7 linked regions of the Homo sapiens genome follow. The protein of the gene in region 1 purifies or fractionates together with the protein of each later gene. This does not show direct contact. Each region holds a gene or a part of one and is shown on either strand. Other genes may lie near its edges.

Region 1 (3,835 bases):
AGAATGATTTTGTGACGCTTAAAAAGGTGAGCGAGAGAATGTCTTGGCTGGGGGTGGGGATAGGAGTGCTTCACAGCCCCATTGTGTCTAAGCAGCCAGTTTGGAAATCAACTGTGAGTGCAAAAGCAGCAGCCAGAGAAAGGAGTGAGACCCATGGCACATTCTCTTGCAAACAAAATTGTCTCTGTAGGTCAAGCTTCTGGATACAGTTTTCAAAGCTGTTCTGCATTTTTGGTAGAGTGCTTCCCAGTAGTAACCCACTTAAAGCCTCTACTGAATCATGATAAATGCAAACACAAAAATCTCTTTGTATTCTCCTTCTAAAGAGCTGAGGAAGGAATGGGACTTCCCTTAGAATGCCTGCTTAAAGTTGCTGTTGGTTGTGCTGACAAAGGTTTGAGGTTGTAGGCCAAAAGCAAGGGTTCTCCTGCTGGGTCCTGCAGGGCCTTTGGTGTATATTCTGGGGAAATTTCGGAGAGGTGAGATGGACAGACGGGATGAGAGAGCTGAGGACTGTGGAAACCCACAAAGAACATCGTATCCTGTTGTAGAAACACACAGTGTCTCAAGCAGGAGAGAGGGGCTGGTTGGCAAAGCTTGGTCATCTCGAGGCTCTGATGGTCCTGAGGGCTGTGAGCCATGGACGTAGGCATGAAGTCCCTGGCAGAGGTGTATGGTAAACTGCACGACAAAAGAAGTCCCATGGGGACAGGGATCAGGTTGGGGAGCCTGGGATTTTAGAGAGGAGCCAGCAGGGACTGAGTAGAGGGGAGTGGCAGAGAGAGGAAGAGGCCTGTACAGGGAACCATACACCAGAGGCCTCAACCTTTCTTGCAGGACGTGGACAATGCCTACATGATAAAGGTGGAGTTGCAGTCCAAGGTGGACCTGCTGAACCAGGAAATTGAGTTTCTGAAAGTTCTCTATGATGCGGTAAGGAGGCTGCTCCGGGACAGTCCCTTACTTCCCACCCTTCTCACCAAATGAAAGTCCTTTCTGCTTGGTGAAAAAGTGGCAGAAGTGGGGTTTATGGACCAGCTGACTTCAATCTGCCATCATTCCAGGCCACTGGGGGGGCTTTCATAGCATAGGTCTTGTGGGTGAGGAATTTTCTCCTCCGATGTTATGGGAATAAGGTTCAGGAAACACCAGGACAGCTTCCCCTCCCTCCATTCCCCAGATGTCCATTTCCCCTGGGGAAGAGACAAGCCCTGTGCCCATTCCTGTGCCTACTGTACTTCAGAGGTCAAAATGCATTTGTCTCCTATCCCCCTCCCCAACCCAAGGGTGCACAGATGATTTCTGAAACAGGAAGTCCATTTAAGGTATTTGCCATGGACAAGCTTCTGTCTGGGGGCACTTACCATAACTGGCTTAAGTGCTGAATGTTAACTAGGAGGCTCAGAAATACAGGTGCCTCTCACTACAATTCTCAGGACAACCTTGGGAGAGGCCCAGGAGTAGACGGTTACATGATTTTCATCCCACCTAGTGTATGCTTAGTCTGAGGGTCTGCGTTTCCCTTATGCTGGGAGACAGAGGCCTCCTGTCTGCCTGTAGCTATGGCAGGATGTCATGACCAGACCTTCCTGTGTGTTGTAGGAGATATCCCAGATACATCAGAGTGTCACTGACACCAACGTCATCCTCTCCATGGACAACAGCCGCAACCTGGACTTGGATAGCATCATCGCCGAGGTCAAGGCCCAGTATGAGGAGATCGCCCAGAGGAGCAAGGAAGAAGCGGAGGCCCTGTACCACAGCAAGGCAAGTAGAGGGAATGTAGGAAGAGCCACAGCTCCCTGCCATGAGCTGGGTTGCACCCCCAGCTGGAAAGTGTACAGTAAGGTTATTGGTTTTTTGTTTAATGGTAGTTGGGCACCATTCCCAAGAAAGGATGTTGAGAATGGCACCAAGTCCTTTTGGGCATGTGAGACAGTCCCTACCTCTCATGAATGCAGCCATGACATTTAGCTGGGTTGACCCTCCCTGGACCAGTAACCAGCTCTCCTTCACTCCAGTCAGTCTGGAATGTGAGCCAGGCTGGAACTTCCTTGCAAACTGTCCTCTTCTCCCCATATCAGTATGAGGAGCTCCAGGTGACTGTCGGGAGACATGGAGACAGCCTGAAAGAGATCAAGATAGAGATCAGCGAGCTGAACCGCGTGATCCAGAGGCTGCAGGGGGAGATCGCACATGTGAAGAAGCAGGTGAGGCCCAGCCCTGTCCAGCGAGGGGCGGGAGGTTGTCTCTGGGTGTGCGTGAGAGTGTGGTTGTGTGTGAGTGTGCATGTGAGAGATGAGAGACACTGAGATATTGCACTCTAGCATGTATCGATCCCAAATTCCCCAGCTTAACATAATTTATGGCTTATTATAACAATTCTTAGAGTGCTCTAATAGACATTCCAAAGTAAGGATTATCGAAGGGAAAGAATTGTGCTCACTTGTTTATATGAGGAAAAGGGAGTCATAACAAATAGAGCAAACGTTAGTTTGATTGATTTGCTGCAGATTGCCGATGGAGCTTCCCGTTTGTGCTCAGCACAGGCCCTGAGCACCAGCCGACTGGTTTCATAGAGGGGCAGTGAGTATTGAGGGCAGCTGGCCTGGGGCTGGACGTTAGCTTTGGAATAGAAAAGGTAGAGGCAGAGAGTGGATTCCATCAGCAGCAGAAGCTTTGCCAAGCAGACCATTTCAAATGTTTTCATTTCCATCTGTAAAATGGGATCATGATTCAGGCCCTGTGATGTGAGGATCAAAGGGCACTATGGGGAAAGCCAAAGGGTGTCATCAACGGTGACATGGGAAGAAGATGTGCCAGAGACAGCGGCAAGTCTTAGCACAGTTGTTTGCGACTAAACTCCAGAGGGGACCTAACACTCCCAGGGCCAGTGGTTCTGGCTTCCTGCACTTCGAACACCTCTGCTCTCTGTCCGCCTCCGTCAGGCAGAATCCATTCTCTGTCCTTCTGTCATAGTGTAAGAATGTGCAAGATGCCATCGCAGATGCCGAGCAGCGTGGGGAGCATGCCCTCAAGGATGCCAGGAACAAGTTGAATGACCTGGAGGAGGCCCTGCAGCAGGCCAAGGAGGACTTGGCGCGGCTGCTGCGTGACTACCAGGAGCTGATGAACGTGAAGCTGGCCCTAGATGTGGAGATCGCCACCTACCGCAAACTGCTGGAGGGCGAGGAGTGCAGGTGAGGGCACTGGGAAGGGAGAAGGGGACCCTGGCCCTTCCTCTCATCTCTCCCAGAGCCAGGGCTGGAGGCAAAGACAGGGAAAGCAGAGAATGGGGCAGGCCCTCCTGACAACTGAGAACTGACATTCTCTGTGTTCCCCAAGCAGAAACTCAGGACATAAAGCATGATTGGAGAGTTACACATTTATCAACATGAAATGATGCATAAGGCACATTAAATTAAACTAAGCAGTAAGTTAAACATCCTGGTCTTTTCTGAAAGAGAAAACAAAATCATGGGAAAACAGGTTAGTCCTAGACAGTCTGAAACTTTGGTCTCTAGGTCCATAGGGTGAGTGGCTTCTGTGCCCTCCACCGGGTGACCCAGAATGGGGGAGATGATGTCTCGGAATGTGCTGACTGGTGGGGACGTGCTGACCGGAGCAGGTGCCAGCCCCAGTTCTTTGCAGGTTTCTGGAGTGACAAATGGAACCATTTGCTAACTTTCAAAGAGGCACCCTTTGCTTCCTCTGTAGTCTGAGACCTTTGTCCGTATTATCAGCATCTTGGGTGACTTAATCTGGCTGAAGCAATTGGAAGGGGAAAAGCTACCCCAGGCCATCAGCAAGCCAGCATGACAAACAGGGAGTGGCT
Region 2 (4,758 bases), on another chromosome or scaffold:
TAAATGGAACTGTTAGGTATTTTTTTGGCCTAGGGGTTCCATGAAAAAAATAACTGGCATACTGAGGGGTCTGTGAACTGAGAAAGTTTAGGAACCTCTTGAACTTTTGACCAGGACACCTATATATATTTTCCATGTTCTGTGCTCCCAAAGGTTGATTTTTTACATTTATCTTTATTTTTTATTTTTTTAAATAAAAAGAATAGATGTGTGTTATACGTGTATGTGTATACATATAATGAATCAAAAGTTTCACTTTTCAAAGTTTTACTTTAAACAGCCTCATGGCCAGGCGCGGTGGCTCATGCCTATAATGCCAGCACTTTGGAAGGCCGAGGTAGGCAGATCATTTGAGGTCAGGAGTTCAAGACCAACCTGGCCAACGTGGTGAAACACCATCTCTACTAAAAATACAAAAAAATTAGCTCGGCGTGGTGGCGCGCACCTGTAATCCCAGTTACTCAGTAGGCTAAGGCAGGAGAATCACTTGAACCTGGGAGGTGTAGGTTGCAGTGAGCCGAGATCGCGTCACTGCACTCCAGCCAGGGCGACAGAGAGACTGTGTCTCAAAAATAAAATAAAATAAAATAAAGCGCTCACTACCTTCAATACACTTGATATTTGCAAATCAATCCTATTTAGTTCCATTAAAAAAATGCTAGCTCCAATCCACGATATTGTTTTGTTTTGTTTTAATCTACTAACGGGTCATGACTACACACTTGATAATATGATGCTGGTTGACTCCTAACGTCCAGCTTTAATACGGTTTGTTTCTCTGGTTAGTTATAAATGAAGTTAGACTACGCTTTAGCTTTTATTTTAGATTTGGGTTGTGGGGGATACACGTGCAGGTTCGTTACATGGGTATATTGCATCATGCTGAGGTTTGGGCTTCTGTTGAACCTATCACTGAAATAGCGAACATAGTACCCAGTAGGTTGTTTTTCAACCTTTACCCCTTACCTGTCACTTCCCACCTTTTTTTTTGAGATGGAGTCTCTGTCACCCAGGCTGGAGTGCAGTGGCTTGATCTAGGCTCATTGCAACTTCTGCCTCCCAGGTTTAAGCGATTCTCCTGCCTCAGCCTCCCGAGTAGCTTGGACTACAGGTACGAGCCACCATGCCCGGCTAATTTTTTGTATTTTTAGGAGAGATGGGGTTTCACCATGTTGGCCAGGCTGGTCTCAAACTTGTGAGCTCAAGTGGTCTGCCCACCTTGGCCTCCCAAGGTACTGGTATTACAGGCGTGAGCCACCACGCCCGGCCCTTTCCCACTTTTGGAATCCACAGTATCTTATTTTCATCTTTATGTCTATATTTACCTATTGTTTAGACCCCACTTACAAGTGAGAGAAGGTGTGATATTTGATTTTCTGTTTCTGCATTAATTTGCTTAGGATAATGACCTCCAGCTGCATCCATGTTGCTCCAAAGGACATGATTTCATTCATTTTTATGGCTACGTAGTATTCCACGGTGTATATGTACCACATTTTCTTTATCTAATCTACTGTTTTTTGTTTGTTTGTTTGTTTTGTTTTGTTTTTGAGGCAGAGTCTCGCTCTGTTGCTCACGCTGGAGCGCAGTGACGTGATCTTGGCTCACTGCAACTTCCGCCTCCCGGGTCCAAGCAATTCTCCTGCCTCAGCCTCCTGAGTAGCTGGGATTACAGGCACATGCCACCATGCCTGGCTGATTTTTGTATTTTTAGTAGAGATGGAGTTTCACTATGTTGGTCAGGCTGGTCTCAAACTCCTGACCTCATGATCTGCCCACCTCGGCCTCCCAAAGTGCTGGGATTACAGGCATGAGCCACTGCTCCCGGCCTATCTGATCTACTGTTGATAGGTACTTAGTTTGATTCAATGACTTTGCTGTTGTGAATAGTGCTGTGATAAACATACTAGTGCAGTGTCTTTTTGATAGAATGATTTCTTTTCCTTTGGATAGATACCCAGTAGTGGGAATGCTGGGTCTAATGATAGTTCTAAGTTCTTTGAGAAATCCCTCTACTCTTTTCCACAGGGGTTGAACTAATTTACATTCCCACCAGCAGTGTATGATACTCCCTTTTCTCTGCATCCTTGTCATCTGTTATTTTTTAACTCTTTAATAATAGCAATTCTGACTGGTGTGAGATGGTATCAGTGTGGTTTTAATTTGTATTTTATTGATGATTAGTGATTCTGAGCATTTTTTTCATATGTTTGTTGGCCACTTGTATGTCTTCTTTTGAGAAGTATCCGTTTATGTCCATTGCTCACTTTTTAATGGAGTTATTTTTTTTTTCTTGTTCATTTGTTTGAGATTCCTTGTAGATTCTGGATCCTAGTCCTTTGTCAGATGTACAGTTTGCAAATATTTTTTTCCCATTCTTTAGGTTACCTCTTTACTTTGTTGATTCTTTTGCTATGTAGAAGCTTTTTAGTTTAATTAAATCTTGTTTATGAATTTTTGTTTTGTTGCATTTGCCTTTGAGGTTTTAGTCATAAATTCTTTGCCTAGGCCCATGTGCAGAAGAGTTTTTCCTAGGTTTTTTAAAATAGGATCTTTATAGTTTGAGGTTTTATGTTTAAGTCTTTAATACGTCTTGAGTTAATTTTTGTATGTGGTGAAAGGTAGGGGGTCCAGTTTCATTCTTCTGCACATGCTAGCCAGTTTTTTTGTGTGTTTTTTGGGTTTTTTTTTCTTTTTAGCACTGTTTATTGAATAGGTGTCCTTTCCCCATTTTTGCTTTTGTCAGCTTTGTTCAAGATCAACTGGTTATAGGTGTATGGCTTTATTTCTGGGTTCTCTATTCTGTTACATTGATACAGATGTCTGTTTTTGTATTGGTAACATGCTGTTTTGGTTAGGATATCCTTGTAGTATAGTTTGAAGTTGGGTAATGTGATGCCTCCTGCTGTGTTCTTTTTGCTTGGCTATTCAGGCTCTTTTTTGGTTCCATATGAATTTTAGAATTGTTTTTTCTAATTTGTGAAAAATGATGTTGCTAATTTGATGGGAATAGAATTTTTGGATTGTTTTGGGCAGTATGGTCATTTAAATTTTGATTCTTCCAATCCATGAGCATGGAATGTTTTTCCATTTGTTTGTGTCATCTGTTATTTCCTTCATCAGTGTTTTGTAGTTCTCCTTGTAGAAATCTTTCACCTCCCTGGTTAAATTTATTCCTGGGTATTTTATTTTTCATGTGGCTATTATAGATGGGATTGCATTTTTGATTTGGTTCTCAGCTTGAACATTATTGGCATATAGAAATGCCACTGACTGTTGTAAGTTGATTTTGCATCCTGAAACTTTACTGAAGTCTTTTTCTTAGGTCTAGGAGTTTTTTGAAGGACTCCTTAGGGTTGAACAGAGATAATTTGAGTTTCTCTTTTCCTATATGGATGCCTTTTTTTAAATTTTAATTTTCTGCCTGATTCCTATGGGTAGGATGGAAAGTATTATGTTGAATAGGAGTCGTAAGAGTGCACATCCTTGTCTTTTTTCAGTTCATAGAGGGGATGCTTCTAACTTTTGTCCATTCAGTGTGATCTTGATTTTTTGGAGTAGTTTCAGTAAGATTGATACCAGCTCTTCTTTGTTTGTCTGGTATAATTTGGCTGTGAATGCATCTGATCCTGGTCTTTTTTTGGTTTGTAGATTTGTTTTTATAACTGATTCAATTTTGTAAATTGTTATGATCTGTTCAGGATTTCAGTTTCTTCCTTGTTCAATCTTGGGAGGTTGTGTGTTTCCAAGAATTTATCCATTTCCTCTGGTTTTTCTAGTTTGTGCACATAAAGATGTTCATAGTAGTCTCTGAGGCTCTTTTGTATTTTTGTAGTATGAGTTCTGTCACCTTTGTCATTTCTGATTATGCTTCTTAGGATCTTCTCACTTTTTTTTTTTTTAATTTACTTAGAGGTTTATCTATCTTGCTTATCCCTTCAAAGAACTAACTTTGTTCTGTTGATCCTTTGTATGTTTTTTTTGTTGTTGTTTGTTTGTTTGTTTGTTTTGGTCTCAATTAATTTAGTTCTGCTCTGATCTTAGTTACTTCTTTTTTTTCTGCTAGCTTTGGGTTTAGTTTGTTCTTTTTCTGGTTCCTTTAAGTTCAACTTTAAGTTGTCAATTTGATATCTTACTGTCTTTTTGATGTAGGCATTTAGTGCTGTAAACTTTCTCCTTAACATTGCTTTTGCTGTATCCCAGAGGTTTTGGTATGTTTGTTTCTCTATTTTCATTTGTTTCAAAGAATTTTTTTATTTCTGCCTTAATTTGTTGTTTAACCAAGTTAGTTAGGAGCAAGTTGTTTAGTTTCCATGTATTTGTGGTTTTGAGAGTTCCTTTTGGTATTGATTTCTAATTTTATTCTACTGTAGTCTGATAATATGCTTGACATGATTTCATTTTTTAAGAATGTATTGAGACTTGCTTTATGACTGAGCTTGTGGTCCATCTTAGAGAATGTTCCATGTGCAGATGAGAGTGTATATTCTGTGATTTTTGGGTACAGTATTCTGTAGAAGTCTGTTAGGTCCGTTTGGTCAAGTGTCTAAGTCCAGAGTTTCTTTGTTAGTTTTATGCTTTGACGTTCTGTTTCTAATGTATATAGGCACATACATTTACAAATGGAAATCTCCTTTATAGATGTAAATTTCTTTTACAGAAGGATTTCAGAATAGCCAGCTAAATGCCAGAAAGGTTTATTTTAATTGGACAAGTGATCTTTTTTCTTTTTCTTTTCTTTTTTTTTTTTTTTTTTTT
Region 3 (4,758 bases), on another chromosome or scaffold:
CAGCCCCTCCATGGAAGCCACCACGGTTTCCCATCCCAGGGCCCCCGGGGCCTCTGCCCCCGCCCCACCCCCTCCACCGACATCATCTGCCATTTGGTGTTTTCTCAGAGAAGAAGCAAGGCAAAATAGTCTTATGTCATATAACATTGAAGCTTCTAAAGGGCTTCAAGATATGTGACTGTATCACTTAATTGAGGCAATAGCCCTTGCTCTTCTGGCTGCTTCTGTTTGGGGAAATTATTGAGTAGGTAGTCTGGGTAGGTGGTACATAGTGTGATTGTCTTCATTCTTTGCTGAGGTTTTGAGTTAGCTTCAGCAGTTCTTCTTAGGCCTAGGATGTCACTTCCCCTTTGCATAAACTTTGTTATGCACATGTGCTTCAGATAGAACTAATTATATTTTTAAATTACAAAAATTAAAATTTTTCCTCTTAAGGAGTTTGGGGCAGCAGTCTTCTTTGTAGAATCATGTGTTTCAGAGGCACAGGTCTACTTTAGAGAAAGTGAGATTAAGGTTCTAAACAAAGATACAAGGCCATTTAAAAAATACTGTTGCCCCCTACACATTTCTCTTCTTTCCCTTTTGTTCAGTATGGTTTGTGTGGATAATTACTGTCCACTAAAACCAGGCCACAGGACCATTGGCATACTCAGGTTGTCTCCTGACAGTGAGTCTAGTCTTCAACCAATGATACAGGCCATTTATATCCTTTGTATGTAGATGTTTGGGCCTGGCGCAGTGGCTCATACCTGTAATCCCAGCACTTTGGGAGGCTGAGGTGGGCCAATCACTTGAGGTCAGGAGTTCGAGACCATCCTGGCCAACATGATGAGATCCTGTCTCTACCAAAAATACAAAAATTACCCAGTGGTGGCGCATGCCTGTAGTCTTAGCTACTCCAGAGGCTGAGGCAGGAGAAGCTTGAACCTGGGAGGCAGAGTTTGCAGTGAGCCCAGATTGTGCCACTGCACAGAACAAGACTCTGTCTCAAAAAAAAAAAAAAAAAAAAAAAGACGTGTATGTAGATGTTTATTTTTTAAAAATTCATTTATTTTTTTATTTTTATTTATTTATTTTTTGAGACAGAGTCTTGCACTGTTGCCTGGCTGGAGTGCAATGCTGCAATCTCGGCTCACTGCAACCTCCGCCTCCCAGGTTCTAGCAATTCTCCTGCCTCAGCCTCCTGAGTAGCTGGGATTACAGGTGCGGACTACCATGCCAGGCTAATTTTTTGTATTTTTAGTAGAGATGCGGTTTCTTTGGCCAGGCTGGTCTCGAACTGACCTCGTGATCCGTCCACCTTGGCCTCCCAAAGTGCTGGGATTACAGGTGTGAGCCACCGCGCCTGGCCCCTTTTAAATTTATTTTTAAGAGACAGGGTCTCACTCTTGTCACCCAGGCTGGAGTGCAGTGGCACGATCATAGCTTAGTGTAGCCTCTAACTCCTGGGTTCAAGTGATTCTCCTGCCTCAGCCTCCCAAGTAGCTAGGAATACAGGCACACACCACCCGACGCCCAGCTAATTTTTCAAATTTTTGTAGAGATGGGGTTCTCACTGTGTTGCCTAGGCTGGTTTCAAACTCCTGAGCTCAAGTGACCCTCCTGCCTCAGCCTCCCAAAGTGATGGGATTGCAGGCATGAGCCACCATGCCTGGCCAGATGTTTGTTTATTTTTTTTCTGAGACTCTAGTAGTCTTTCTCTTCCTTTATTGAATCTGTTAAGTTTTATATCAGGTTTGGATGATAGCCAAGTTGGGTTTTAGTGTCTTCACCTTAGCAGCCCTGTATGTAGGACTGTAATTCTACTCAAAAGGGAACATGAAAGGTAATGTGAAAAATTCTAAAACACTTGGCTTCTAAAGACTTGTGGATGTTAGGTTGATTTCTCCTGTTCATCAAAGTAATTTGCACATTTAATGTTCCATTCATGGAGCTATTTATTTAAAAAAAATTATTAACTTTTTAAAAGACAATGTCTTGCTCTGTTGCCCAGCCTGGAGTGCAGTGGCGTGATCATAGTTCACTGTAACCTCAAACTCCTGGGCTCAAGTGGTCCTCCCAGCTCAGTCTAAAGAGTAGCTAGGACTATGGGCTGCACTGCCACACCTGGTGAATTAAAAAATAAATTTTTAGAAATTGGGTTTCTATCTATCTGTGTTGTCCAGGCTAGTCTCCTGACCCCAAGCAATCCTTCTGCCCTGGCCTCTCCAAGTGCTAAGATTACAGGTGTGAGCCATTGTGCCCAGCTTATCGCCTAATTTCTTCTCCTTATTCTGACAGATTGAAGGAGTGGGATTTTTTTCCCTCTGATTTTCTTTAGGGAATAGAAGCAAACAGCTTTCTTGGGGCATTTTTGGGACTCATCAACAGAAAAGAATGGAGAGTTTAGGCTCTGAAGGACCTTTTAAAATATGTATACATTTTTAACAGCTTTATCGAGATGTAATTTGTATACTATATAATTCACCCATTTGAAGTGTACAGTTCAGTGATTTTTCGCATATTCAGAGTTGTGCATCCCTCACTACAATCAATTTTAGAACATTTTTATTACACCAGAAAGAAGCTCTGTTCCTTTAGCCATTACTCCCTCCACCCTACCCCCAGCCATAGGCAATCACTAATCTACTTTCTGTCTCTATAGATTTGCCCGTTCTGGACATTTCATATAAATAGAATCATATAATATGTGGTCTTTTGTGACTGGCTTCTTTCACTTAGCATATTTTTTTTTAAGGTTCATCCGTGTTTGTAGCATTCCTTTTTATTGCTGATAATATTTTATTGTATGGATATACCATGTTTTGTTTATCCATTCATCAGTGGTGAATGAATGGATAACATTTTGATTCTTTTCACTTTTTGGCAATTATGATTAATGCTGCTCTGAACATTGGTATAAAAGTTTTTATATGGACATACATACATTTTTTAAAAACTTGTTTAACAGAGATTTGTAAACACAAAAATGTAGAATAGTACAGTGAAACCCCATGTCCTTATTACCTAACTCCAACAATCAGTTTTTTTAAATAGATAGACTTTATTTTAGAAAACAGTTGAACTTAACCAAGGCTTTCCGGGAGTATCCATCGCTGGACTCTTTCAGGGTATAGGAGATTGTACCCTTTTTAGGGTTCTTACTACAGCCAGTTCTCTTCTCATATCCTTTTGGAGTCCTGGGGAAGGAGGACATGAGCTTCTAATAAGCAACCTGATTTCTGCCTATATGTATGTGATAGCTTTTTTAAGAAAACTGTTTTTATGCCTTTTTTCTGTCTCTACTGGAGATTCCAAGTCTGGACTACAGCTTTTTGAGAGCCATCTCATTTGTAGCTTCTTGATAGTTAGTACTGGTTTAGACCTTGGGCTAGTATGCCGTTTCATGGTGACATGTAATAGTTCTGGTGGGGAGCTGAATGTGGGAGTGTGAATGAACTTGCCACTCCTCATGGAGCCTATGTTTTTTCTCCCTATACTAATATGGTCAGAGACTTTTTGTATGGTAGATGGTGTTTTGGCAATGGAGTGACTCAACTCATGAACATTCCTCTCTGGAAATAGGTGTGTTTATGGCTGACAGACCTATAGAGAAAAATTTTTACCTCAGTTTGATTTCAGAAATCATCCTTGGTTTATTCCCATTTATTCCTATTTCATACTGCATTGAAACCTCAAAATTTCCCAAATTCTTAGGAAGAAGGTGGGTAACAGAAACCTGGATTCCCACAGGTGGCATTCTTGTTAGAGAAGGTAAATAAAGTTTGTCCTTGATAACCTTTCATAAATTTATTCCTAGGTCTACAACTTTGATCAAAGGCAGGCTGGTGAATAAGAAAAGGCAATGTTTTGAGATTCTGCTGGCATAGTCTCAGAGATAGGAAAGCAACTACTAAAAAAACTAAGGAAAAGTCATTTCTAGAAACTCACAACAAAAGTAGCTACTAGAAACTGTAGAAGACACTAATAGTTACCATCCTCTAGATGATAATTCACTCTGGAATGTGAGTGACATGTAAGAACTTTTATTTTTTATTCAGAGTACTTAGAAGTTTTCATACATAAAGTGCTAGAGGATCTTTATTTCTATCTGTGATTTAAATCAGAAACTTTAGTTTTGTGTCATAGCCATAGCCCCTGAGAAGGTTAGCATTATTGGGTGTGGTATAGAATTCTCAGCTAAAAGAATAGCTGTCCCATCCTGGATTTTTACCTCATGCCACAAAGGTCTGAGACCTTTGTATTTAATGAAATAAAAATATATGGTGAACCAAACCATCACTTTCTCTTTTCTAAGCCCAAGATTAGCAGAGTGCTTGTAGATATCCAGAGAAGGCAAAGAGGGTGACAAAACAGGCTGTGAGAGAGCTTTATGGGTTTTAATATGTGAACCATCAAGGCAAAGCATTGGAGAACCTTCTAAATCTTATGAGAAAATCATGCTAATTAGATAAATCAGTAGTTTTTTTAAAAGTTACCATATAGTGATACTTTTTTTTCCCAATTGAATTATTAGAACCTTAATATACAGACTTAAAGTTGGAATTAGTGTGATTTAACTGGGATAGAAGGTCAAGAGCCCTGCTGGTTCTGCTTTTCTAGTACCTCCTTTCTTTTGGTAGCTCCTGAGCACTCTTTACAACCTCTGGAACACAGCTTTAAAACCATTTATCTGAGCCACGTGTGGAGGCTCACGCCTGTAATCCCAGCAGTTTGGGAGGCTGAGGCGGGCAGATCACCTGAGATCAGGAGTTCGAG
Region 4 (4,758 bases), on another chromosome or scaffold:
GGAGGAAGGGCTTGGGAGGACGGGCATGGATGCTGGGGACTTTAGCTTGACCCTCTGGGGAGGGGAGGGGAGGGGAGAAGGGCAAGGGAGAATCTAGGTTAGGACCTTTTTTTTTGTTTTTTGGCAGGGGAAAGGGTTGGTGTCTTAGTCCTTTTTGGCTGCTATAACAGTAATACCACAAGTTTGGTAGCTTATAAACAACAAGCGTTTATCTCTCACAGTTCTGGAGGCTTGAAAGTCGAAGATCAAAAAGAGCTGATAGATTCAGTGTCAGTGAGGGCCCATTCCTCATAGATGGTGCCTTTTTGCTGTGTCCTAATATGGTGGAAGGAGTCAGTGAGCTCCCTTGGACCACTTTTAAAAGGGCACTAATCCTATTCATGAAGGCTCCACCGTCATGATCTAGTGACCTCCCAGAGGCCCACCTCTTAACATCATTACCTTAGGGGTATTTCAGCATGAATTTTGGGGAGATGCAAACATTTAGACCATAGCAGTAGGGGAAAGCAGAGAGCTTAGATCCTTGAAAGAAGAGGGAGTTGGGGATGCTGAATGTGAGGCTAGGTGCTGTTTGGATTTTGGATTTTTAAACCTCTACAACCTGCAGCAAGGGAAGGATTTAGCTTTACCTCTGTGTTTCATCCATAACTAGGAAATGTCTGTCTTTCTCTTTGCAGCAATATCCCAGCCCCGAATTCTGCTATATAGTAGTACCCTGCGCTGGATGCAAAACTTCTGGGCAACTTGGACAAGTGTCACAAGGCCTATCTGCAGGGGAAAGCTCTTCAATAACCTGAAACCCAGCAAGAAGAAACTTGGTCAGCACTACAAGCAACTTTCCTATACAGCCCTCTTTCCCCAGCTGCAGGTAAGGCACTGATGTCCCTGCTGACATCTTCACTTTATTCTGCTTCTAGTTTTCTTGTTTCTCATATTGAGTCCCTTAATCATCCCTCTCATGCCATCCTTTGTTAATGTTATGCTCTCTTGTTGCCAGGTACATTATTGGGCCTCATTTGCCCAGCAACGGGGCATCCAGATTGAGTGCAGTCAGGGCCATGTCTTCACTCGGGGGACTCAGCGGCTTATACCTCAAGGTAAAATGAAAGACTCCTTTCATTTCTCCTATCCTGTTCCTTGTTTTTCCCTTCTCAGTTCCATTCCCCTCCTCCATCTCTGTCTTACACTATCCTCTGAACTGGTCAGCATGGTCTCTGTGTGCCTCTTTTTCTCAGCAGGCACAGTGATGCGGCGCCTTATCTCTGATTGGAGTGTTACCCAGATGGTGAGTGACCTAAGTCAGGTGACCGTTCACCTGATGGCCTCACCCACTGAAGAGAATGCTGATCACTGTCTTGATCCCTTGGTAACAAAGACCCACCTGCTGAGCTTGTCCTCCCTCACCTACCAACGGCATAGCAATCGCACAGCTGAGGAGGTACTCCCTGACACACTTTCTTTATTACCTTATTTATATTAGTAGGTATCTCAGCCTACTTGGGCTGCCATAACAAAATACCAGAGACTGGGAGGTTTATACAACAAAAATTTATTTATGAGTTTTGGCTACTGGGAAGTCCAAGATCACGGTGCCCGCATGGTTGGGTTCTGGTGAGGGCTGTCTTCCTGGCTTGCAGATGGCTGCCTTGTGTCTGTCCTCACATGGCAGAGAGGGAGAGAGAGCACAAGTGTGCACGAGTGCTCTGGTTTCTCTTATTGTAAAAGCACTAATTCTGTCATGAGTGCCCCACCCTCGTGACCTTATGTCATTACCTCCCAAAGGCCCATCTCCACATACTGTTACATTGGGGGTTAGGACTTCAACATATGAATTTGGGGGGAACACAGTAAAGTCCATAGGAGTAGGTTGCAGATTAAGTCCCTGGTAAGGTTTCTCATATATTCCAAGCATGTATGTCATTACTTTATGACAAACTCATTTGGTTTAGCTGTATCAGCATCCTTCTTTTTGAAAATACTTTTTCTTTCTCTCCTAAAAATAGTATGTTACTCTTTAGGAAATAGAGTAAAATTTTTTCCTAACACTGAAAAAAAAATTGGTACTGCCTTTCCCCCAATTAGGGAAGGATTTTAAGTTGAAATTCTCAAGTCATTTAAAATACAGTGGGGGAGGGCTGGGTGCGGTGGCTCATGCCTGTAATCCCAGCACTTTGGGAGGCCAAGGCGGATGGATCATTTGAAGTCAGGAGTTCAAGACTAGCCTGACCAACATGGTGAAACCCCCATCTCTACTAAAAATACAAAAGAATTAGCTGGGAATGGTGGTACATGACCGTAGTTCCAGCTACTTGGGAGGTTGAGGCAGGAGAATCTCTTGAACCCGGGAGGTGGAGGTTGCAGAGAGCCGAGGTCACACCAGTGCGCTCCAAGCTGGGTGACAGAGCAAGATGCTGTCTCCAAAATACAAAAAAAAAAAAAAAAAAAAAAAAACAGTGGGGGCTGGGCTCAGGTGGCTCATGCCTGTAATCCCAACACTTTGGGAGGCTGAAGCAGGTGGATTGCTTGAGCTCAGGAGTTTGAGACCAGTCTGGGCAACATGAGGAAACCCTGTCTCTACCAAAAATACAAAAAATTATCTGGGTGTGGTGGCATGTGCCTGTGGTCCCAGCTACTCGGGAGGCTGAGGTGGGAAGATGGCTGGAGTCTGGGAAATCGAGGCTGCAGTGAGCCATGACCGCATCACTGCTCTCCAGCCTGGGTGACAGAGTGAGACCCCATCTCAGAAATAAATAGGCAAAGTGTGATGGCTCATGCCTGTAATCCCAGCACTCTGGGAGGCCAGGGTGGGTGGATCCCTTGAGCTCAAGAGTTCCAGACCAGCCTGGGCAACATGGTGAAACCGTGTTTCTACAAAAAATACAAAAAAATTAGCCAGGCATGGTGGCATGCACCTGTAGTCCTAGCTATTTAGGAGGCTGAGGTAGGAGGATGGCTTGAGCCCAAGAGGCAGAGGTTGTAGTGAGCCAGGATTGCACCATTAAGGCTGGGTGCAGTGGCTCACACCTGTAATCCCTACACTTTGGGAGGCTGAGGCAGATGGATCAGTCGAGGTCAGGAGTTTGAGACCAGACTGGCCAACATGGTGAAACCCTGTCTCTACTAAAAATACAAAAATTAGGCCAGGTATAGTGGCTCACGACTGTAATCCCAGCACTTTGGGATGCCAAGGTGGGCGGATCATTTGAGGTCAGGAGTTTGAGACCAGCCTGGCCAATATGGTGAAACCCCATCTTTACTAAAAAATACAAAAATTTGCTGGGCGTGGTGGCAGGTGCCTGTAATCCGAGCTACTCGGGAGGCTGAGGCAGGAGAATCGCTTGAACCCGGGAAGTGGAGGTTGCAGCCAGCTGAGATCGCACCATTGCCTTCAGCCTGGACGACAAGAGTGAGACTCTGTTTCCAAAAAATAAATAAATAAATAAATAAAAAATAAATAAATTAGCCAGGTGTGGTAGCACATACCTGTAATCCCCAGGTACTTGGAGACTGAAGCATGAGAATCGCTTGAACCTGGGAGGCAGAGGTTGCAGTTAGCCAAGATCATGCCACTGCACTCCAGCGTGGGTGATGGAGTGAGACTCTGTCTCAAAAAAAAATCACACCACTGCACTTCAGCCTGGGAGACAGAACCAGATTCTGTCTCAAATAAATAAATAAAAATAAATAAATATATTTAAAAAATAAAATGGGCCAGCACAGTGGCTTGTGCCCGTAGTCCCAGCTACTTGGGAGACTAAGGCAGGAAGATTGCTTGAAGCCAGGAGTTCAAGACCAGTCTGGACAAAATAGACTCCATTTCTTAAAAAAAAAATTTTAGAGGAACTCTGAAAACGTTTTTTGATAAAGAATAAAATACAGTAGGTATAGTTTGAATGTAATATAATATAAAAGCCAAGACCACTTAGTTTTTCTTCTCCAGGGTCTGTCTCCCCACCACGCCCAGTGAATTTTTTTTTTTTTTTGAGACTGCGTCTCTCTCTGTCGCCTGGGCTAGAGTGCAGTGGTGTGATCTCGGCTCACTGCAACCTCCACCTGCCAGGTTCAAGCGATTCTCCTGCCTCAGCTTCCTGAGTAGCTGGGATTACCAGTGCCAGCCACCATGCCCAGCTAATTTTTTGTATTTTTAGTAGAGATGGGGTTTCACCAGGTTGGCCAGGCTGGTCCCAAACTCCTGATCTCGTGATTTGCCCACTTCGGCCTCCCAAAGTGCTGGGATTACGGGCATGAGCCATGGCATCTGGCCAACAGGTTTCTTATTCAACAAACTTTTATCACTGCCTCTGTGGCACTGGGGGCAATTTCCATGCTACCCTGAAGTCCTTTTCCTGTTTCTTAGGAGCTCTCTGCTCGTGATGGGGATCCTACCTTTCATACACATCAGCTGCACTTAGTAGATTTACGGATTTCCTGGACAACTACCAATCGAGACATTGCCTTTGGGTTATATGATGGGTACAAAAAGGCAGCTGTACTCAAACGTAATCTTTCTACTGAGGCCCTGAAGGGGTTAAAGATTGATCCACAGATGCCAGCCAAAAAGCCAAAGCGGGGTGTCCCAACTAGTGCCTCAGCCCCACCTCGTGTTAACACTCCCAGCTTCAGTGGACAACCTGATAAGGGGTCATCAGGAGGTAAGCTCGGGGAGATGAGACTTTTTGGGTTTGGGTTTAGAACATGGATATGGGCTTGGACAGGAGTTTTAAAAGGACTGAGTCATGGTGCTTCTATCTAGGTAAA
Region 5 (4,472 bases), about 71 Mb from region 1:
GGTTATCAAATTTGTTAAATTTTTGGTGGCTAAAAAACCAAACACACCAGAGGGATGCTTAATTTAAACTCCAAAAAAGCTCATTTTTTTGCAAAGCGTGAAGAGAACATCTTAGACCACCTAACAAATGTCAGTCCAAGGCAGTTTTTAGGTCAACTGCTTCGGACATAATCTACTTTTTTATTTCAGAAAGTATGCTACCTCAAGGCTGGGCGCAGTGGCTCACGCCTGTAATCCCAACACTATGGGAGGCCAAGGCAGGCAGATCATTTGGGGTCAGAAGTTCAAGACCAGGATGGCCAACATGGTGAGAACCCCGTCTCTACCGAAAATACAAAAATTAACCAGGCGTGGTATGCACCTGTAATCCCACCTACACGGGAGGCTGAGGCAGGAGAATAGCTTGAACCCAGGAGACAGGTTGCAGTGAGCCAGTATCACACCACTGCACTCCAGCCTGGGCAACAGAACTAGAGACTCCATCTCAAAAAAAAAAAAAAAAAAAAAAAAGGATGCTACCTCAAAAACCTACTTAACTCAATGAATCTGAAATATAATATTTCTTGAGCACTTACTAAGCACCAGGCACTTTACAAAATCTCCCTTAATGAAAGGAGTTTTCTTATTTCATCTTATAGCTGAGAAAGGCAGGCCTGTGCCAGGATGTGACCCAGGTCTCTCTGGCTCCAAGTCTCTCCTTTCTTGTCCCCTGAGCCCAGCTCTGCACAACCCTAGCACGGCCACTTTAGCTACATCTGTTGCTTCAGTTGGAAAAGTCCTTCAGTTGCAAAGACCATTTCCATACCTCAGGAGTAGCTCCTGCAAACAGAGGCTTAGCAAGGGAAAGGAAGGGGGCAGATCCAGGCATCAGGGGAGAGTTCACTTTCTATTTGCATTTTAAAAGGCACTTCCCAGAGGTGGCAGATTTGCTTAGGGTTTTTTTTTTTTTTTTCTTTTTAAACTATTAATACCTGCAGCAAAGCCCCAAGCCAACAACAAAAATAGTTTATACCCGGGGATAATAGCTGCTATTTAGAATTGCCATCTTTCCTGCTTTTAGGTGGAGTGTTTTTTCAGTTGAGTGTTCATAAGATAAGCATTACCGAAGAGAAAGACAGCAGAAAGAACTTTCCTTGGTATCCCTCTTCACAGCTATGAAGAAAAAAGAATACATTTTTTAGAAATAAGTGACTGATAGCTCCAATCTATTACACACTTCAAATATCAAAGCATATGCTGAGAGAGAGGCGCAGAAGATGTTTTGATGGAGGTTAACGCCTTTTTTGGAATAAGCCAATATAGGCTACTAAGAAGATAATTCCTTGGCAAGATAAAACTATCATCTCTTCTGAAATGGCATTTTTTAATTCTTAAGAATGTAGTAGATTTTACAATAAAAGTAGGGAACAAGGAAATATCCTAACAATTTTCAAGTTAGTTTTTAATGTCATATCCAGGAACACATTAAAGGTGGTCTTACTAGGTCTTGACACAAGCTGTACTGGAGCTTGATTAAAATGAACATTTTCTTTACCAAGACTAGATTTTTTTTTTCTAAAGGCTAGAAAACCAAGAATAAAGAATACCAAGAATAGGCCGGGTGTGGTGGCTCATGCCTGTAATCCCAGCACTTTGAGGGGCCAAGGCAGGCGGATCACATGAGTTCAGGAGTTTGAGACCAGCCTGGCCAATATGGTGAAACACCATCTCTACTAAAAAAAAAAAAAAGATATATACATACACACACACACATAGACATATACACACACACAAAATTAGCCGGGCGTGGTGGCAGATGCCTGTAATCCCAGCTACCCAGCAGGCTGAGGCAGGAGAATCGCTTGAACCCGGGAGGCAGAGGTTGCAGTGAGCTGAGATCATGCCATTGCACTCCAGCCTGGGCAACAAGGGCAAAACTCCATCTAAAAAAATAAATAAATAAAATAAAATAAAAATAAAAAACAAGAATAAAGGCACTTGATTCTAATTATAAGTAATTTTGATTAGCCTGAAGTCTTCAAAAGTTGCAGAGTAGGGAGCAAAGGTTCAACTGCACTGTCAGACAGGCCACCCTCCTTGCTGAGAAGGGAGCAGGGCTGTGGACCCCTGGCCTGGGGACCAGCCAGGTGAAGGGTGCTCAAAGGTCATTTGAGAGCCTGCTTGGAATAACTGGGATGGCTTGGTTCATTCTAACTACTTATTATTAAGAGCCACATAAAGAGGAAAAGCTCAAAAGCAAACCAAAATTTAAAACCTGAGCATGTTTAGTACGAATCCATTTTGAAAGTTTGGATGAGTCTGTTTATCAACATGTACCGAGCTGGAATATGTGGGGCACTGCGTTCTGATTGGCTACCAAAAACTAAGTAGTTACACAGCTCCAACTTAACCAGCAGTCCCAACACAAACCTGCCAATGCTCCTGGATCAGAGGAGAGACTCCTGCCCACGTGCTACTTCTGAGAGCCAGCGGCTACCACAGAGGCAGTGGGCTGGAGCCCTCTGCAAGGCCGAGGGGAAGGCACCAGGCTCCATCCGGACACACTCCCTGTCCATTAACAAATACAGTAGATTGTGATGATCTAAAGTCTAGTGTTCTTACAGCACCTACAGTGGAAATATTTTCCTTTTGGCCAGGGTGAAGGAGTGGAAAGGGGTGAACATATCCAGATGACAACTATGACGGACAGCTGAAGCCATGCACACTAAGAAAACCAGGCTGCCCTCTTAATCCCTCACGGGGTGGTGGCTTGTATTTCAAAGGGTTTATCTGTCCATTTATTGTCCAGGGTGGGACACAAGTTAATTCAGAACAATGGGCAGAGAGCTACTCTGAGAGCCCTCCAGAGAGGGCTCTCCAATTGTTTAACTTTTTTAGAAAAGATAAAATTAGAGAATTACAATCTCTCTTTTTTCTCTTACAGACAATAAAGTTTAAAGAAAATGAGTTATATTCATGTAGTTTTCAAAGCTTTCCAAGAGTCCATTATTACTATTCTGATATTCACTCTAAGACACGTTTCAAATACGAATTGCATTATCATTTTTTAAAAACCTCAACACAACTGAAATCCAAGGTACACTGTAATTGTTTATGTATTCAGCATGTACTAGTCTATCATTATGGAAGCTATTAAGCTTTATTTTTTAAAAACTGAATTGTATTTACAATGTAGAACAAGTCTATAAAATTGATGTGCAGTTAATTGTAAAAGGATAACACTATTTGTTTAGAAACAAGCTGCTTCCTCTGTTTATATTTCCTTATTCTTGATATAAATTGGAGACAGATACTATTTAAAAATAATGCTTTTTAAATAGTAAAATATACAAGAGATTCCTGAGCATAACAAAAATATCTTGAAAATATGTGGCCATTTGAAGTATAAAATAGCAAGTGTAAGAATAGCATGATTGTAAAACTACTGTTTGAAGGCTTATAAACAGTACAAAATAGTTTGCCTTTTCTGACTGCATAATTATACATTAGTGCAAACAAAAATGTCTCAAAATTTAATGGCTACAAATCTCAAAGATTTGCAGAGGTGCGCAAAACATGGAATTTCTTTAGCGTCATGCGAACTGAACCCAGTTCTCGATTAATCCTTTCCAAACGATCTTCCAAGGCTTCCTAGGTGAAAACAATGGGAAAAGTTTAATTAGAATTCTATACCAAGTTCTATAATCACCACCAAACTGACCTTTCTTTTAGCAAAAGAGCAAGTATAAACACTAAAATTACAATTATTTTGCTTTCTACACGAAACATCTTATGATTTCTTTTAAACTGGACAATATGAATTAGCTTTTCAACTATTCCAAATAACTGCTGTACTTTAAAATATTCTCAATATGTTTGACACATTGAGTATATGGAAATTCTAGTAATAGCAATACAACCAACTGGAAGAGGATAATTCTTTGGCTCTGCTGAAGTGAGAACAGTACAAGAGGAGCCTAGGAGGTGCTTCACACATTTCACCAGAAGAAATGGACACATTTGATCAGTGCTGCATCCCACACATACATAGATCAAATAACTTTCTTCTCACCAAAATTTCTAAGTTAAAAAGGAAAAAAAAAAAACACTGAAGGATACTTTTCTTAAAAAAAAAAATAGATTTCACAATGAATTAACAATTGCTATTTTAAAATAAACAATATTACTGTTAAATAATACCTGGACTATATATCATTATACATACTTCTGTGTTTTTGTTGAGACAGGGTCTTGCTCTGTCACCCAAAGCTGAACTGCAATGGCATGATCATAGCTTACTGCAGCCTCAAACTCCTGGACTCAAGCAATCCTTCCACCTTAGCCTCTCGAGTATCTGAAACTACAGGCAGGCACCACCACACCTGGCTGATTTTAAACATTTTTTTTTTTGCAGAGACAAGATCTCACTATGTCACCCAGGCTGGTCTCGAACTCCTGGCCTCAAGTGATCCACCCACCTCGGCCTCCCAAAG
Region 6 (3,618 bases), on another chromosome or scaffold:
GCCCTCAACTTTGTTACTGATATCCCTAAATCATTTAATGTTGTATATCCATTAACAGTTATTTATGATTATTTTTCTACTTTCATCTTTCAAATTTTAGATAATAATTAAAAGTGATTTCTGCACCATCATTATAGTACCACAGAATTTTATTTTTCTGTATATGCGTATCTTTTCCATATATTTATTTTGATATGATTATATATTATTTTATAGCATCGCATTATTTTCAGTGGAAAGGACTCCTTTTACCATTTCTTGTTTGACATGTGTAGTGGTAATGTAGCCCTTGGTTATGTTAGAAAGCCTTTATTTTTTATGATTTTGTAGGACACTGGTTATATTATTCTTGCTTGGAAGTTTTGTGTTCAGCAATTAGACTATCTCATCCAATTCCCTTCTTGCTTCAGGTTGTACTTTTTTTGAGACAGGGATTTATTCTGTCACTCAGGCTGGAAGTGCAGTGGTGTGATCGTGGCTCACTGCGGCCTCCACTTCCCAGGTTCAGGTGATTCTCCCACTCCAGCCTTCTGAGTAGTTGGGACTACAAGTGTGCAACAGCATACACAGCTAATTTTTTTGTATTTTCTGTAGAGATGGGATTTCACCATGCTACTCAGGCTTGTCTTGAACTCCTGGGCTCAAGCGATCTGCCTGCCTCAGCCTCCCAAAGTGCTGGGATTACAGGTGTGAACCACCGTGCCCAGCCAGGCCTCAATGTTTCTGTGGACAAATTCACTGGTAATCTCCTAAGAGCATGTACCTTGCTTTTCACTTGCTGCTTTCAGGATTCTTTTCTCCTTTGACTTTGGAAACTGTGGTTATAATGTGTCTTATGTCCCTTTTTGTTTATACTAGTTGATGTGTTGAGCTTCTTGATTTTTTTGTATTTTTTTCTTACTTTTGAGAATTTCTCAGTAATTATTTCCTTTCATACCTCAGTTTCTCAGTCTGTTTTTCATACTTCATGTCTTTTTATTGGTATCCTTATTTTCCTAATTTTACTTAGTTTGCTGTTTTGCCATTTTTACTCATTGAGCATTATTCAAATGGTAATTTTATTTTCTTCAGTTAATTTATGCATCTCCATCATTTTAGGGTTGATTTCTGAACTTTTTTTATTTCTTTGATTATGCCATGTGACCCTAATACTTTGTACATGTCATCTTTGACTGAGATTCAGGCATTAACAACAAGCCTCCTGCCACAACCTTTATAATGTGCCTTTCTCCTGGGGTCATCTAAAACAAATAGGCCCAGATTCTAGAGGCCTCTTAAGCCTGTTCTGGGATGTGTCTTGTGTGGAATTGTGTGTGTATTTTTCATTTAAAGAGGGTTTCTCAGCTTTCTTTGTAGTGCCCTGGAATCACACAATACACTTGTCGCCTGGTGCTGCTGCTGCAGCCTTCCTACCGCTGTCATGGGTATTTCCTTTCGGTCTCAGCAGACCCAGCCTGTCACTCAGAGTACCACCATTTCTCTCAGCACTCCGTGTCACAGGGGGCAGAAACCAATCTTTGCCAAAGCTTCAAAAGGCCAAAAGTAAAAACACTTGTGCCAGTATTTGCTTTCTCTTTTGAAGGAGAAGCCAAGAGCTGAGGGTGTACTCTTAAAGGCATGATGCTATACTGCGGAGGAGCGGGGGCTGCAGTGGGTAAACGTAACAGACTGTTTTTCTTCTTATCTGGCTCCTAGCACTGTGCTCACCTGGGGTGCTGCAAACTGTGAAATGGTTTTTAGAGTTCAGATGCATCTTCTCACTAGGTATTGTTACATTTATATGTTTATACAGAAATTAGGGCCTGTGGTATTTTTTATGCCATTTTGCTAATGTACCCAGTATTATTTTATAGATTAGATTCATAAAGTGTATTCATCTGTGTCTAGTAAGTCGGATAACTTTTTTTTTTTTTTTCAGCTATGTCTTCTCATTTTACCCAAGACCTTCTGCCAGAGCAGGGCATACAAGATGCATTCCCAAAAAGAATACTGAGAGGATATGGAAATTGTGGCCTTGATAATTTATATTTAAGGAAAGACTGGGAAAGTTTAGATGAGTGTAAGTTGCAAAAAGATTATAATGGACTTAACCAATGTTCATCAACTACCCATAGCAAAATCTTTCAATATAATAAATATGTTAAAATCTTTGATAACTTTTCAAATTTACATAGACGTAATATAAGTAATACTGGAGAGAAACCTTTCAAATGTCAAGAATGTGGCAAATCCTTTCAAATGCTCTCATTCCTAACTGAACATCAGAAAATTCACACTGGAAAAAAATTCCAAAAATGTGGAGAATGTGGCAAAACCTTTATCCAGTGCTCACACTTTACTGAACCTGAGAACATTGACACTGGAGAGAAACCTTACAAGTGTCAAGAATGTAACAACGTCATTAAAACTTGCTCAGTCCTTACTAAAAATAGAATTTATGCCGGAGGGGAACATTACAGATGTGAAGAATTTGGCAAAGTATTTAACCAGTGCTCCCACCTTACTGAACATGAGCATGGTACTGAGGAAAAACCCTGCAAATATGAAGAGTGCAGCAGTGTCTTTATCTCTTGCTCAAGCCTTTCTAATCAACAGATGATTCTTGCTGGAGAGAAGCTCTCCAAATGTGAAACATGGTACAAAGGTTTTAACCACAGCCCAAATCCTTCCAAACACCAGAGAAATGAGATTGGAGGGAAACCTTTCAAATGTGAGGAATGTGACAGCATCTTCAAGTGGTTCTCAGACCTTACTAAACATAAGAGAATTCACACTGGTGAGAAACCATACAAATGTGACGAATGTGGGAAAGCCTATACACAGTCCTCACACCTCAGTGAACACAGGAGGATTCACACCGGAGAGAAACCCTACCAATGTGAAGAATGTGGGAAGGTCTTCAGAACTTGCTCAAGCCTTTCTAACCATAAGAGAACTCATTCTGAAGAAAAACCCTACACGTGTGAAGAATGTGGCAACATCTTTAAGCAGTTATCAGACCTCACTAAGCATAAGAAAACCCATACTGGAGAGAAGCCCTACAAATGTGACGAATGTGGAAAAAACTTTACCCAGTCCTCCAACCTTATTGTACATAAGAGAATTCATACTGGAGAGAAACCCTACAAGTGTGAAGAATGTGGCAGAGTCTTCATGTGGTTCTCAGACATTACCAAACATAAGAAAACCCATACTGGAGAGAAACCCTACAAATGTGACGAATGTGGAAAAAACTTTACCCAGTCCTCAAACCTTATTGTACATAAGAGAATTCATACTGGAGAGAAACCCTACAAGTGTGAAAAGTGTGGCAAAGCCTTCACCCAGTTCTCACACCTGACTGTACATGAAAGCATTCATACTTGAGAAAAAAATAAACAAATATAAAAATAGGCAAAGCCGTTAGTATCTGCTCGCATCCCACTTTACATCAGAGTTCAGACTTAATAAAGTTATCATAAATGTAATTACTATTGAAAGACCTTTCATGAAATATAAGTCTCCAGAGCACACAAGAGTATTTCTTCTGAAAAAAATGTTACAATTATACTAGATGGAAGACTTGCATCAGTTGCTTAAACTTTCAGAAAATTTGTAGAGAAACCCAACAAATCTCAT
Region 7 (4,136 bases), on another chromosome or scaffold:
GGCAGCACAGGAGGGTCCTGCTGAGCCCCCAGGTAGCCTGGGGAGCAGGAGTGAGTCCCAACATTTCCCCAGGCCAGTACAGATACAGATCCTGCACCTGCACTGAGTGTCAACGCTGTCCCTGAATTGGGCTGAGGCTGACCAGGGCCCTGGGTTGGGGGTGTTTCCTGGGGTAGCCTGGGGATGACTCCTCTGCTCAACCTGTCTTGGCCCGAGGTGGATGAGGGTGCTGTCCTGGGCATCAGCCCCCTCAGCAGGCCTCTGCCTCTTGCCTGCAGCAATGGGGAGAACTGGTGGTGGGTGCCAGTGGTGGCACCACTTCTGGGTGCCTATCTAGGTGGCATCATCTACCTGGTCTTCATTGGCTCCACCATCCCACGGGAGCCCCTGAAATTGGAGGATTCTGTGGCGTATGAAGACCACGGGATAACCGTATTGCCCAAGATGGGATCTCATGAACCCACGATCTCTCCCCTCACCCCCGTCTCTGTGAGCCCTGCCAACAGATCTTCAGTCCACCCTGCCCCACCCTTACATGAATCCATGGCCCTAGAGCACTTCTAAGCAGAGATTATTTGTGATCCCATCCATTCCCCAATAAAGCAAGGCTTGTCCGACAGCAGTACCCCCACTTCCTGGGGGCCTCCTGTGGTTGGGCTTCCCTCCTGGGTTCTTACAGGAGCTCCAGGGCTATGTCTTAGCCCAAGGTGTAGAGGTGAGGCACCTCAAGTCTTTCATGCCCTGGGAACTGGGGTGCCCCAGGGGGAGAATGGGGAAGAGATGACCTGCGCCCTCAGTAGGAACAGGGTGAGATGAAAGAACGACAGAATGAGGGATTTTCAGGCACGGGGGAAGGAAGGGTGGTTTTGGGGAACAGACCGTAGCTGACTGGTTGGGGGCCGGCTTTGGAAATACTTTGAGGGGATCCTGAGATTGGACTCTAGACTCTCCCCTGGTTCTTCCCTTCCCTGAGTTCTGGCCGGTTCTTGGACCAGACAAGGCAAGGCCCAAGAATGTAGATCAGAATTTTTTAGCCTTTTTTTCATTAGTTCCTTCCCTAGTATTCTTCTAGATTTTTTTTTTCTTAATCACATGAAATTTTAATACCACAGATGTACTATATATCTGTTTATGTTCTGTATATGTTCTGTGCTTTATACATAAAAAAGAGTAAGATTTTTTTTTCACCTCCCCTTTTAAGAATCAGTTTTAATTCCCTTGAGAATGCTTGTTATAGATTGAAGGCTGTTAAGGGGTTGGGCTCCTCTTTCTTCTTCCTGGTGCCAGAGTGCTCCCACATGAAGGAATAGGAAAGGAAGATGCAAAGAGGGAAATCCTTCGACCACATGAAGACACAGGAAGAGGCCTCATAGGGCTCCAAGGGCTCCAGGGAAGCAGGTGCAGAGGTTGGGTGGGGTGAGGGGCCAGGATCCACTGACCCTGGGGCCAGGCAGGAATCACTCTGTTGCCTGGGGCTCAGAAGGCAGCATCACCCATGGTTCCTGTCCTTGCTCATGCATTTTGCCTTTCAATAATTATTGTGCATCTACTGTGTGCAGGCCCTGCCTGGACACTGGGGATGCGCAGTGGATGCGCTGGGCTCTGCCTTTGAGGGTTGCAGTTTAATGGGGGACAGGTAATTATATGGAAGAAGGTGAGTGCAGAGTGGGAGGCTTGGAGGCTGTGGGGCTCGGGGTAGGGGAGCTCACATCCAGCCTCTGGGCCAAGGCCAGGAGGCTTCCCAGAGGAGGAGACAGAGCAGGGTATGGTGGTGGGGGGTGTCCTTTTTGGGGGTGGGAGCTGCACTTTACAGTTTGAGGGGATGGGCAGAGGAGGCTGGGCTTCGTTCTGGAGGTGGGGACACGGTGAGGTGAGGTTTAGAAAGCACACCTGAGCCGCAGTGTGTAGGATGCTGGAAATGGTGGAGATGGGCCTGCGAAAGTGATGACCCAGGAGCAGCAGCCGGGCACCTAACAATGGGTCAGCACCGTGGGCGTGGAGACGAGAGCGGGGATTGATCAATACCGGAGAAGTACAATGTACAGGACTTGGGTTCCATTTGGATGGAGTGGGTGAGGGAGAGGGAGGAGTCAGAAATGGCTTCCGGTTTCCAGCTTGGGCCTGGGGATTGGAGATGTCCCCACTGAGAGTAGGGCACAAGTGAGGAAATGGTTTGGAGAGGAAGATAAGTTACATCATGGACATGCTGAGTCTGAGTTGCCTATGGGACTTGGAATGGGGGGTGGCAAAATGTGTGTGATCTTGAGCAAGATATTCAACCCTTCTGGGCCTTGGTCTTCTTATTTGTAAAATGGCGATAAGAATATTACTTCCCATTTGTGTTGCTGTGAATATTAAATGCGCTACCACATGTAAAATGTTGAGAATCATTTCTGGCTCAGAGTAAGTGCTCAATAAACACAGTTATGCCTTTTATATGGTCTGGAGCTCAGAAGCGGAAGACAGGGTTTCGTGAAGTCATGGCTTTGTGGATGTAGCTAGATTGTGGAGTAATGACAGGAGGGTTGGGGGCATGGCACAAGGTAGGTGGTCAAGAGACACTGGACACAACCCAAATGTCCATCCACAGGGGAACAGATACATACACTGCTGCGCAATTGCACATAATAGAACCCTCTACAATAGCAAAAATTAAGGCACAACAGACACCTGCAACAACACAGAAAAATTCTGGAGGCATAAAAGGTAATACAGTAGCCGGGCGTGGTGGTTCACGCCTGTAATCCCAGCACTTTGGGAGGCCAAGGCGGGTGGATCACGAGGTCAAGAGATCGAGACCATCCTGGCCAACATGGTGAAACCCTGTCTCTACTAAAAATACAAAAATTATCTGGGTGTTGTGGCACACACCTGTAGTCCCAGCTACTCGGGAGGTTGAGGCGGGAGAACTGCTTGAACCTGGGAGGCGGAGGTTGCAGTGAGCCAAGATTGCATCACTGCATTCCAGCCTGGCGACAGAGCTAGACTCGGTCTCAAAAAAAAAAAAAAAAAAAGAGCCTGGTGTAGTTGGGCACCTGTAATCCCAGCTACTCAAAAGGCTGAGGCAGGAGAGAATCCCTTGAACACGGGAGGCGGAGGTTGCAGTGAATGGAGATTGTGCCACCGCACTCCAGCTTGGGTGACAGAGTGAGACTGTGCCTCAAAAAAAACAACAACAAAGTAATACAGTAGACTATATACAGTGTGACACCAGTCTTGTAGCTGAAAAATAAGCAAAAATACATTCTTTGCTATATATATGTATGTAAGAAAACTATTTTAGAAAAAGAAATAATTCCTACAGGCAGATGGAGAGGAACACAGGAGTAGTACAAACTATTAATAATTTTCTAGTTTTGGGTTTGGACATTTGCGGGTTTATTACATGATCGTGCTTGATAACATATAAATGTGATACATATTGTTTGTATGAGATATATATATTATATATATATATATATATATATATATTTTTTTTTTTTATGGAGTCTCTCTCCCGTCATGCAGGCTGGAGTGCCAGTGGTGTGATCTCGGCTCACTGAAACCTCTGCCTCCTGGGTTCAAGCAATTCTCCTTCCTCAGCCTTTCAAGTAGCTGGGATTACAGGCATGCGCCACCACGCCTGGCTAATTTTTGTATTTTTAGTAGAGACCAGGTTTCGCCATGTTGGCCAGGCTGGTCTCAAACTCTTGACCTCAGGTGATCCACCCGCTTCCGCCTCCTAAATTGTTAGGATTACAGGCGTGAGCTCCACCGCCTGGCCAGTATGTAGGTATATCTAAAAACACAAAGAAGGAATAGCTGTAGTGTGAGGACGGCGGAGTTGGGGGGCGGAGTGGGGGGCGCCAGGGGGAGGGGAGGGGTAACAGGTGGGAGCCTGGTGAGATCACAGGGAATCCAGGGAGGATGACTGTATCTGACGTCCCACGGTGGGAGGAGCCGAGCCAGGGGAACCAGGGCTGGGAGTGACCAGGGAAGGGCCCACAGCTGGAAGTCCCCAGCTGTACAGTAGCCTTCCTCGGTAACCTTCTACAAGCCCCTTCCCCCCTCTCACGCTCAGTGGCCCTGTGAGCCTTTCTCATTGTTGGCATTCCAGAGCAGCATGGTCCCAAGGCCTCAGTTACAGCTTAGAGAGG

Evidence for each region.
Region 2: the proteins of KRT2 (region 1) and CEP350 purify together in Homo sapiens (affinity purification with mass spectrometry; one large-scale study listed by BioGRID and IntAct). This does not show direct contact.
Region 3: the proteins of KRT2 (region 1) and ZNF318 purify together in Homo sapiens (affinity purification with mass spectrometry; one large-scale study listed by BioGRID and IntAct). This does not show direct contact.
Region 4: the proteins of KRT2 (region 1) and BLTP2 purify together in Homo sapiens (affinity purification with mass spectrometry; one large-scale study listed by BioGRID and IntAct). This does not show direct contact.
Region 5: the proteins of KRT2 (region 1) and MPHOSPH9 purify together in Homo sapiens (affinity purification with mass spectrometry; one large-scale study listed by BioGRID and IntAct). This does not show direct contact.
Region 6: the proteins of KRT2 (region 1) and ZNF195 purify together in Homo sapiens (affinity purification with mass spectrometry; one large-scale study listed by BioGRID and IntAct). This does not show direct contact.
Region 7: the proteins of KRT2 (region 1) and AQP7 purify together in Homo sapiens (pull-down; one study listed by IntAct). This does not show direct contact.

Annotation. Positions count from the first base shown.
Region 1 is NC_000012.12:52,646,105-52,649,939, reverse strand, and holds part of KRT2 (keratin, type II cytoskeletal 2 epidermal), read left to right. Parts: coding exon 1-26; intron 27-837; coding exon 838-933; intron 934-1,602; coding exon 1,603-1,767; intron 1,768-2,084; coding exon 2,085-2,210; intron 2,211-2,979; coding exon 2,980-3,200; intron 3,201-3,835.
Region 2 is NC_000001.11:179,960,878-179,965,635, forward strand, and holds part of CEP350 (centrosome-associated protein 350), read left to right. Parts: intron 1-4,758. UniProt on the Homo sapiens protein: Plays an essential role in centriole growth by stabilizing a procentriolar seed composed of at least, SASS6 and CPAP. Required for anchoring microtubules to the centrosomes and for the integrity of the microtubule network.
Region 3 is NC_000006.12:43,358,773-43,363,530, reverse strand, and holds part of ZNF318 (zinc finger protein 318), read left to right. Parts: exon of another isoform or gene 1-116; intron 117-4,758.
Region 4 is NC_000017.11:28,628,159-28,632,916, reverse strand, and holds part of BLTP2 (bridge-like lipid transfer protein family member 2 isoform 1 precursor), read left to right. Parts: intron 1-677; coding exon 678-868; intron 869-997; coding exon 998-1,097; intron 1,098-1,235; coding exon 1,236-1,438; intron 1,439-4,357; coding exon 4,358-4,652; intron 4,653-4,758. UniProt on the Homo sapiens protein: Tube-forming lipid transport protein which binds to phosphatidylinositols and affects phosphatidylinositol-4,5-bisphosphate (PtdIns-4,5-P2) distribution.
Region 5 is NC_000012.12:123,153,279-123,157,750, forward strand, and holds the end of MPHOSPH9 (M-phase phosphoprotein 9), read right to left. Parts: intron 4,340-4,472; coding exon of another isoform or gene 4,286-4,339; exon of another isoform or gene 3,637-4,285; intron 3,631-3,636; coding exon 3,529-3,630; 3' UTR 1,153-3,528; coding exon of another isoform or gene 1,147-1,152; 3' UTR 937-1,146; downstream 1-936. UniProt on the Homo sapiens protein: Negatively regulates cilia formation by recruiting the CP110-CEP97 complex (a negative regulator of ciliogenesis) at the distal end of the mother centriole in ciliary cells.
Region 6 is NC_000011.10:3,358,866-3,362,483, reverse strand, and holds part of ZNF195 (zinc finger protein 195), read left to right. Parts: intron 1-594; coding exon 595-741; intron 742-1,695; coding exon 1,696-1,764; intron 1,765-1,918; coding exon 1,919-3,366; 3' UTR 3,367-3,618. UniProt on the Homo sapiens protein: May be involved in transcriptional regulation.
Region 7 is NC_000009.12:33,381,433-33,385,568, reverse strand, and holds the end of AQP7 (aquaporin-7), read left to right. Parts: exon of another isoform or gene 1-278; coding exon 279-564; 3' UTR 565-2,378; downstream 2,379-4,136. UniProt on the Homo sapiens protein: Aquaglyceroporins form homotetrameric transmembrane channels, with each monomer independently mediating glycerol and water transport across the plasma membrane along their osmotic gradient. Could also be permeable to urea.